2 linked regions of the Homo sapiens genome follow. The protein of the gene in region 2 interacts with the protein of the main gene of each other region in a pairwise test. Each region holds a gene or a part of one and is shown on either strand. Other genes may lie near its edges.

Region 1 (4,152 bases), on a different chromosome or scaffold from region 2:
GTGGTGGCTCACGCCTGTAATCCCAGCACTTTGGGAGGCCTAGGCAGGCGGATTACAAGGTCAGGAGATCGAGACCATCCTGGCTAACACAGTGAAACCCAGTCTCTACTAAAAATACAAAAAATTGGCCAGGCATGGTGGCAGGCGCCTGTAGTCCCAGCTACTCGGGAGGTTGAGGCAGGAGAATGGCGTGAACCTGGGAGGTGGAGGTTGCAGTGAGCTGAGATTGCGCCACTGCACTCCAGCCTGGGCAACAGAGCGAGACTCCATCTCAAACAAAACAAAACAAAACAAAACAAAACAAAAAAACAGTTACAGCAGGATGCGCTCAATATCCAGTCACCCGCCAAGATCATATCGTCCCATCTGCTAGAGAAAGTACCATCCCAGGGAACAGAGGTTGCCTGTGAAAGGCAGCAGCCTGCACAGCCTGGAACCATGTATGCAGCCCCCCAGCCTCCCTCAAGCAGGCAGGAATCACGCAAGATGGAGTCTTTGGAGCACTTGTTAATCCGTTATGATTTATTAGCTGTACAGCAGTAGATCCTCCTCCCCAGCTTTCAACCCCATTACATATTTTATTACAGGTCTCATGTTGGCGTCCTAAAATAATGAAAAATATCACACAGTACAGCTAAGTACAAAATGCATCAACCTAGAGTCTGATAGCTAACTGATGGCTCTCTTAAAAGCAATACACAGAAGAAAAAAGTGTTTGAAATCAGTAAGACTGAGGCTCTCTAAAAAACACATTTTTAAACATGTGACAGTTCATGTGCAAGAATCACTTTTTAGTTGGTTTTGCTTCACATTATTTTATTTTTTGAAGATCCAAGGTTTAAATTACTGACCTAGTGAAATTTTCTGGCCCAGCTTATAAGGGCTGCTGTGAACCACTCATAATCACCCTTCTGCCTTAACAGAAGATTTATAAAACACAACAATCAGCTACAAACAGGGCAAAGAAAATGTCGATGGGAAATCATAACTGAAAGTTAATTATACAAGGTTCAAATGCTGGCTCCGTGGGCTGGAAATCATGATCTGCCACGTGCATGTCCGTCACTGGTGGGCAGTGGTCTGGGTGCCATTCTGCTACATGATTGTGATCCAATTCCTTGTCAACATTTACACACTACAGAGTCTGTGGTAACTTAATTTGCAAGTAATTAAAATGCTGGGTTTTCTTACACTGCACTTCTTTTCAACCTCTTAATTAATGGAAAAGATTAAAATGTAAAAAAAGTTATTTACAAGCTTGACCATACCAGAAACTTTGCCAAGAAAGAGGCAAAGCTTTCAGGACAGAACCTGATCGTAGCATGCCATACTACTGGTGTGCAGCTGACTCCAAGCAAAGGGAGTCAGGGAAAAGCAAAAGCAAAAAACAGTTTAAAACTCTAAGTCCTTCCCAAGTATGCATTTACAATTAAAAACTCTCTTGGGAAGAAGACCATAGAACTCTGGGAAGCCTGGTGGCCATTCTGGAGTGGTTTACCACATGGAGGGAGGGGTCAATGTCTCCGTTTCCATCTAGGAAAACGAGTTAGTTGTCAACACTGTCCTCAGCACTTCACAGTAAACCCTCAGGGACTCAGAACATTCCATGATTTGCTAACATCAGACAGCAAGTTCTAGTTAAATCACATTTTTTTCTAACATCATCCTTGAAGTTTTCGTTCTCGGTATGTTTGGTAAAATGATGCTTTTCCCAAAGCCAAAAAAAGAAAGAAGGGAGAAAAATTAAGATGCGGGCCGTTTAAACACAGCCCAGAGAAGTCCTGGCGACGCACAAGGCTCCGCCATCACCGGTCCATCATGCTGAGGATCATCTCGGGCGTGAGGTCTCCGTTGGGGGCATCTGTGGCAGCTGGCTGGGCCTCCTCTTCCTCTCCCTCTGCGGGCTCAGCATCTGGCTCTTTTTTTACTTCAACTATAATGTTCTCAATTGCACCTGTATTCTGGTCTTCAACCTGAATGATAGCTGTTGCTGGCAAAGAAGAGCACAGACAGAACAAATGGTCCATTAAAGCCCCAAGAATCACAAGGGTCTTTTAGACTGACAGCGAACGGGATGTCAGCAATGCAGGACAGCCTTATTAGATAGCGGTCCAGAGACAGTCAATTTATTTTTTATTTTATTTTTTGAGACGGAGTCTTGCTCTATGACCAGGCTGGAGTGCACGGGCATGATCTCAGCTCACTGCAACCTCTGCCCCCCGGGTTAAAGCAATTCTCCTGCCTCAGCCTCCTGAGTAGATGGGACTACAGGTGCCCACCCCTACGCCTGGCTAATTTTTGTATTTTTAGCAGAGATGGGGTTTCACCATGTTGACCAGGCTGGTATGGAACTACTGACCTCAGGTGATCCTCCCGCCTTGGCCCCCCAAAGTGCTGGGATCACAGGCATGAGCCACCGCCTGACCCTGAGTTTCTTAGAAGGGGCAATCTCAGTGCAGAAACTGCTTTCCCTCTCCAACCTTTACGATTTGGCTCTTTTATATTCATTACCGCATCCATTCTGCCAGCTGACTGTGACTTTGGTTGTTTTTCAAAACCCGCCCACATTAACAGTACCCATCTTGCAGAACACAAGTACCCTTCTACTCTGGACTTCTTCTTGAAATGTAACAGGCCTCTAAAGACTTCCTCAGATGTTCCTCAGTAAAAACTCCTAAAAAGCCATTTCCTGAGAGTTTGTTCTCGACATGCCCTTAACTTGTTCTCATGGCTTAGTTCCCACATCCCCAAAGAACAAGGACCCATCTGGCTCCCCCACATGCTCGGAGAAGACGCCAGCCTCCAGAGCAGAGATGAACAACTTACGCTGGTTCTGTTTGGGCTGGTTGGTTCTGCCAGGGGGTCGTCCTCTCCGCTTCTTGGCGGGTGGTGGGGCTGGGGTCACAGGCTGAGGCTCTGGCTCAGGTTCAATTTCTACGGCAGGCTCCTCCTCATCCTCATTGTCGTCCAGATCTGGTTCAGCATTTTCTTTTCATGAAATCAGGAAGCACAGGTGGTGGGGCAAGGAGAAGGGTGGTGGAAGATGAAAGAAAACAATTATATATTATTTGAAGTCTTGTTTTATAAATATATATATATATATATATACACTTTCTTTCTTTTTTTTTTTTTGAGACAGTCTCACTCTATTGCCCAGGCTGGAGTGCAGTGGCGCGATCTCGGCTCACTGCAATCTCTGCCTCCCAGATTCAAGCAATTCTCGTGGCTCAGCCTCCTGAGTGGCCGGGACTACAGGCACGCACCACCATGCCCAGGTAATTTTTTTTTCCTTCTTTTTTTTTTTTTGAGACAGAGTCTCACTCTGTCGCCCAGGCTGGAATGCAGCGGCACGATCTCAGCTCACTGCAACCTCTGCAACCTGGGTTTAATTCTCCTGTCTCAGCCTCCTGAGTAGCTGTGACTACAGGCATACGCCACCACACCTGGCTGATTTTTGTATTTTTAGTAGAGATGGGGTTTCACCATATTGGTCAGGCTGGTCTTGAATTCCTGACCTCAGGTGATCCACCTGCCTCGGCCTCCCAATGTGCTGGGATTACAGGCATGAGCCAACGTGCCCAGCCAATCCAGATAATCTTTGTATTTTTTGTAGAGATGGGGTTTCGCCATGTTGGCCAGGCTGGTCTCAAACTCCTGACCTCAGGCAATCTGCCTGCTTCGGCCTCCCAAAGTGCTGGGATTACAGGTGTGAGCCAGCATGCTCAGCCAATTATTAAGAAAAATCAATTTAAGGCTGGGCACGGTGGTTCACACTTGTAATCCCAGCACGTTGGGAGGCTGAGGTTGGAGGATCACTCATGTTCAGGAGTTCAAGACCAGCTTGGGTAACATAGTGAGACCTTATCTCTACAAGAAATAAGAAACTGGCAGCTGGGCGTGGTGGCTCACACCTGTAATCCCAGTACTTTGGGAGGCTGAGGTGGGTGTATCACCTGAGGTTGGGAGTTTGAGACCAGCCTGTCCAACATGGAGAAACCCTGACTCTACTAAAAATATAAAATTAGCTGGGCGTGGTGGCGCATACCTGTAATCCCAGCTACTCGGGAGGCTGAGGCAGAAGAATCACTTGAACCTGGGAGGCGGAGGTTGCGGTGAGCTGAGATCCGCCACTGCACTCCAGCCTGGGCCACA
Region 2 (5,353 bases):
TTAAGGGCGGTGCAAGATGTGCTTTGTTTAACAGATGCTTGAAGGCAGCATGCTCATTAAGAATCATCACCACTCCCTAATCTCAAGTACCCAGGGACACAAACACTGCCGAAGGCCGCAGGGTCCTCTGCCTAGGAAAACCAGAGACCTTTGTTCACTTGTTTATCTGCTGACGTTCCCTCCACTATTGTCCTATGACCCTGCCAACTCCCCCTCTGCGAGAAACACCCAAGAATGATCAATAAAAAATAAATAAATAAATAAAAATAAAAATAAAAAAGGCAAAAAAAAAAAAGAGCAATATTGGAAAGTTGTGAAGAATAATACGTTGGATCTTGCTGCACAGTTTCAGTATTTTAGGGGTTGACCAGAAGACTAATTCTATTCATACTTATTTGGATGTACTTACCAGCTATTATCCTGACCAGTTGTCTCAAATATTTAAAGCTTAGACAGTGTCACCAACTTTTTCTGGGAGCTGGGGAGTCTTTCATAACAAACTTGAGTACTTGACTGCAGATTGAAGCAAAAGAGCTAACAATGAAGTAGTGAGAGAAAGTAGTTTTCTACTCTTTGATAAGTATGATTACCTCTTGTTGGCTTGTCCACAACTTTGAAGTTCAGACAATCAGTAATAGCAAATTCAGTGAATCTAGTTATATGACTAAATGCCCAGCTAAGCCCCAAGGCCCAGAATTTTCATGAAGTAGTGACTTAAAAGTACCCTCCCAACCCTACAAAAGAAATAAAACCTACCCAGTTCCAAAGTAATTATCCAAAGTATCCAAAGTCATTTCCACCAAGTATTTGTGGTTTTATGCTAGATGTTATACTTATTGACCTGTATATAAGTTTAAAAAAAGAATTAAATTCACTTGTAGCATTGTTAAGGTACAAAAAGAATTCATTCTTTAATATGATTTTCCCAGTTTTCAGACGACTGGCTGAATGACTTAATTTGAAACGTGTTTGATGGGGGATGTCTTCCCTTATCTCTTATCATCATAAACCAATAGGTGTTACTGACCTATTGAGAAAAAAAAAAGTCTCAAGTTCTATTTTGTTGAAGTCCTCAAATTCTAGAAATAAAATACGATCTGGCTTTCTGAATATTTGTGTAATTTTAAGTGGTGTTAATTGGCTAATTGCTAACAAGAAATACCAAACAGGACAATTCTAGACAAATGTTTGCATCTGTTCTTGTTAATAGGGAAAAGAAGATATATTGTTTGAGGAGATTACATAATTAAGGACTGACTCCAGCAAGCCAAAAACAAAAACAAAAGTATTTACTATGGACATAAACTTTGTTAATGAGAGTTTTAGATGCAGGCACTTGTCAATGATAGTTGGTATTGTAGTAATTAGTTTTAGTTATGGTCCTCCTTTTTACTCCATGATTGCTAGCAGCCAGAAGGTGAAGTCATGGCAGTAAGGAGAGGCTGACATATAAAATCAGAAAGCAAGGGCATGCTTCTGGATGAGTTTATTTCCTTCATATTTTATATGTATATGCTACTTACTATGTTTGTAACAGTGCCATTAAGGGCAAAAGGCAAGTTTTTTGCTTCATTCCTGAAAAAGTAGCCTACCTTTTTTTTGCATCATATATTTAAGGACTGCTACACATGACTAACAACAAGGAACTACTTCCTATTTAGTGGATTATTTAAATGTTATGCAGTATTCTGCTTTACACATAGGAAGCACTCGGATTTCTAAATTAAATATCATAGGAATAGCATTAATTTATGAGTCACATTCTTAAGTGTCCATCAGAACATTTATGCCCTAACAGATTTAATTCTGTAAGAATAAATATCAAAGGCAGCAAAATATCAACCTACCCAGTCTTCCCTAGTTGTCCCAAAAATGTCCCTTATGGCTGTTTGTCTAACCCAGAAACACATGTTGCACCTAATTGTCATCTCTTTAAGTTTCTTTTAATCTTGTAGCGTTTTCCTCCCCACCCCACTTTTTCTCATGTCACTGACTAGACAGTTATCCCATGGTATGCTCCACCTTCTGGATTTGTTTGATTGTTTCTTTGTGGAGTGTTCTGTTCTCTGTATTTCCTATAAATTGGAAGTTAGTTTTAAAGCCCTGGTGCATCCAAGTTAAACATTTTTTTAATATAATGCATTAAAATGTCAGGTAATACTGTATATTCTATATTGCATCACAACAGGAGATATATCTGGATGACCTACCATTAGTGATGCTAAGTTTTACATTGTATTGGAGCAACACCAATGCATTTCATCCTCCATAACCTTAATGCTTTTACTCTCCTAGTTTGGCTATCTCTTTCTAAAAATACAGTTCCCAGACCAGCAGTATTAGCATCGGCAACAGCAGCTTTACCTGGGAACTTGTTAGAAGTGCAAATTTATGGACCTTCCTCTGACCCACTGAATTAGAATATTTGGGGATAGGACTAAGGAAACTGTGTTTAAACAAGCCTTCCAGATGATTCTTATACATGGTAAAGTTAGAGAACCACTGGGCTGTCTCAACTTATATTTTAGTTTCCTGAATAATTTATATTGAGTTGCTTTAATTAATCATTGGTGAGTGGATTGGGGTAAAATATTGTTTTGTTGCCTTTTATTTGTGTAATTCAGTATGAAAGTCTTGAGTTACTACAAACCTTCATTTCTGTTGAAATTTTTTTCAAACTGTTAATAGGAACCAATGAGATGAATGAATTTAGAAGGGTATAAATAGAACAAAGGGACCACAGTATATGCCATGTTCACATTTGTATCCTTAGAGCCTAGCACAAACTAGGTTCTCTAGGCCCAGCACAGTGGCTCACTGTAATCCCAGCACTTTGGGAGGCCAAGGTGGGAGGATTGCTTGAGGCCAGGAGTTTGAGACCAGCCTGGCCAACATGGTGAAACACCATCTCTACTAAAAATATAAAAATTAGTTGGGCGTGGTGATGGGTGCCTGTAATCCCAGCTACCCGGGAGGCTGAGGCAGGAGAATTGCTTGAACCCAGGAGGTAGAGGTTGCAGTGAGCTGAGATTGCACCACTGCATTGCAGCCCAGGCAAGAGTGATACTCCGTCTTAAAAAAAGAAAAAAAAAACAACACTACCACCACCACCACCAACAAAAGACCCAAACTAGGTTCTCTGTTTGTGTAATGAAGGAACAAATGTCACTTCTACCCCCAATATCATTGGTCAGCTGGCAGGTTAGTCAGCGTTTGTGAATTTAGCATGTTGAGATCATGGAGTAATCTGAAGTACTCAATGGACCAATCTGAATTAAGCTTTTCCTGTTTTTCATAGAAGTGTTCTTTTCTCTAAACTGCTGTAATTTTTCTTGACTTATTAGGCTGGAGGACGTGTGCCAGTGTTAGACACACTCATAGAACTTGTTACACGAGGCCGATCTATCCCCGTACATCTGAATTCTTTGCCAAGACTGGAAACCCTAGTAGCTGAGGTTCAGGCTTGGAAAGAATGTGCTGTTAATACATTCTTGACTGAGAATTCTCCATATTCTCTCTTAGAGGTAAGTTTACAACCAGCTCATCTGCAAGACCTTAGATCTCCTAGTTTGGTAAAACATGCAGTTCATCACATACAAAGATGACATCACAGATTAATCTATATTCTGTGAGTTGTTCTTCCCGTAAAGCCAGGGAGACTCTTCTAATTTTCTGGTGAAGCAACCTTTAAATGTTTTCTTGGTTGATTTAGCATAACAGTATCTAAAGAAGAAAATTTTTTCCTATTGGGTGAAATTCCTCTGTGTTGAAATTGGACTCTTAAACTTGGCCGTGCTTCGCCCACCTGAATTTAGTAAGCCTGATAAATGATCTCCCCCATTTTTTAAAAGTGCTTTAACTGCACTTTTTGTATTTTCTGTAAACTTGCTTGTGCATCATGACTGGGATCAACCAGTATATATCACATTTTTAACTTGTTACTTAATTGAATAAGGAATCAGTCTATCTTTTATGAGTCTTCCTCCTCCTTTTGTAAAGGAGAGCCTCAGGGTTGCATGTTCCAAAGAAAATCTTCAATACTAAGAAATGCACATCCTTTTTACTGCTTAGGCTTTTATTTTGGGACTTCCTACATAATGCTTTATCTGAAATTTATTTTACCATTGGTTGTGCCTTGTCCCACATTAGGTGCTGTGTCCTCGATGTGATATTGGCCTTTTGGGATTGAAAAGGAAGCAGAGAAAGTTAAAGGAGCCCTTGCCAAATGGAAAGAAAAAAAGCACCAAATTAGAGAGTCTGAGTGACCTGGAGAGAGCTTTAACTGAAAGCAAGGAGACTGCTTCAGCTGTATGTAGGGTTTTTTTCTTCTCCTTTCTATGTTATTGGGAAGAATAATTTCTAACCCTTTCTGTTTTATAGGAATTTGGAGAAGGCAAGTAGAGTAACTTGAAAGCGTTCAGTTTTACTAAAAAGACTTTTTGAAAATTGTCAAGTGTTAAGAGTTTTGAATGGTAAGATGCATAGAGGTGGGAAAGATTCAGGGTAGGCTTCCCAGTCTCAGGGTCTTGCAGGCACAGAAACAGTCTTGTTTAGTGCCTGTGGGTTGATCCAGGAATGCTAACTAAAGATATTGAGACTAATATTAATAGATGTATGAAAATGCAATGCTAATTTATTAGTTTATAGTTAAGAAGTACATTTAAAAGTTTACTGGATACTTTGATACTCATCTGGAATACCTTACATCTCTGACCTGCATTTAGTAAATACTGTTGATTCAAAGATGATAGTTTAAAGAAGATGAGGCAATGTATAACTAATGTTACACATTAAGCACCTTATCGGGATAAAAAAGGGATAGCTATGTGATGCTTTTAATGGCACAAAGCATTGCCCGTTCTAGAGTGGGAATGTATACCTGCTACTGGGACTAGATTGAATGGGTTCATCTGTGGATCTGGACACCTTCTCCCATTGATTTCTTTGTAGCTGCCAGACCTCTTGTGATAGACATGGGTTGCCTTGATTTATTTAGGTATTTTGACACAGATGTTCTTAGTGTATATTCGTATATTCAGTCAGGTTCTAGACAGAATTCTGCCATCAGAGGTCCTCCATTCCATCTGTGGTTTGTTTTTATAAAGACTAACTGAAAGTTACAGTCCCCCTCTCCTGAGGTGTATATATGTTGGTTTGAAACTTTATATGCAGTATCTTTTGTAGATTTTAGTCTGTCCATCTGTCTGTAGACCCCTGGTTTTAAGAATTCTCCCTACGTATTATCTGTTAATTTATGGTAGAACTCAAAGGTTAGTCATTTGCTTTCCATCTCTAAGCTGTCAGAAGTTACCTTGTTATCATATAACCCACACATATTACCTGTGTATTATAT

Evidence for each region. Proteins that work in one complex are often made in the same cells at the same time.
Region 1: the proteins of KDM5B (region 2) and CTCF interact in binary tests that used the Homo sapiens proteins (3 or more experiments, as listed by UniProt).

Annotation. Positions count from the first base shown.
Region 1 is NC_000016.10:67,635,526-67,639,677, reverse strand, and holds the end of CTCF (transcriptional repressor CTCF), read right to left. Parts: intron 2,989-4,152; coding exon 2,827-2,988; intron 1,991-2,826; coding exon 1,806-1,990; 3' UTR 501-1,805; downstream 1-500.
Region 2 is NC_000001.11:202,734,384-202,739,736, reverse strand, and holds part of KDM5B (lysine-specific demethylase 5B), read left to right. Parts: intron 1-3,344; coding exon 3,345-3,524; intron 3,525-4,149; coding exon 4,150-4,308; intron 4,309-5,353. UniProt on the Homo sapiens protein: Histone demethylase that demethylates 'Lys-4' of histone H3, thereby playing a central role in histone code. Does not demethylate histone H3 'Lys-9' or H3 'Lys-27'. Demethylates trimethylated, dimethylated and monomethylated H3 'Lys-4'.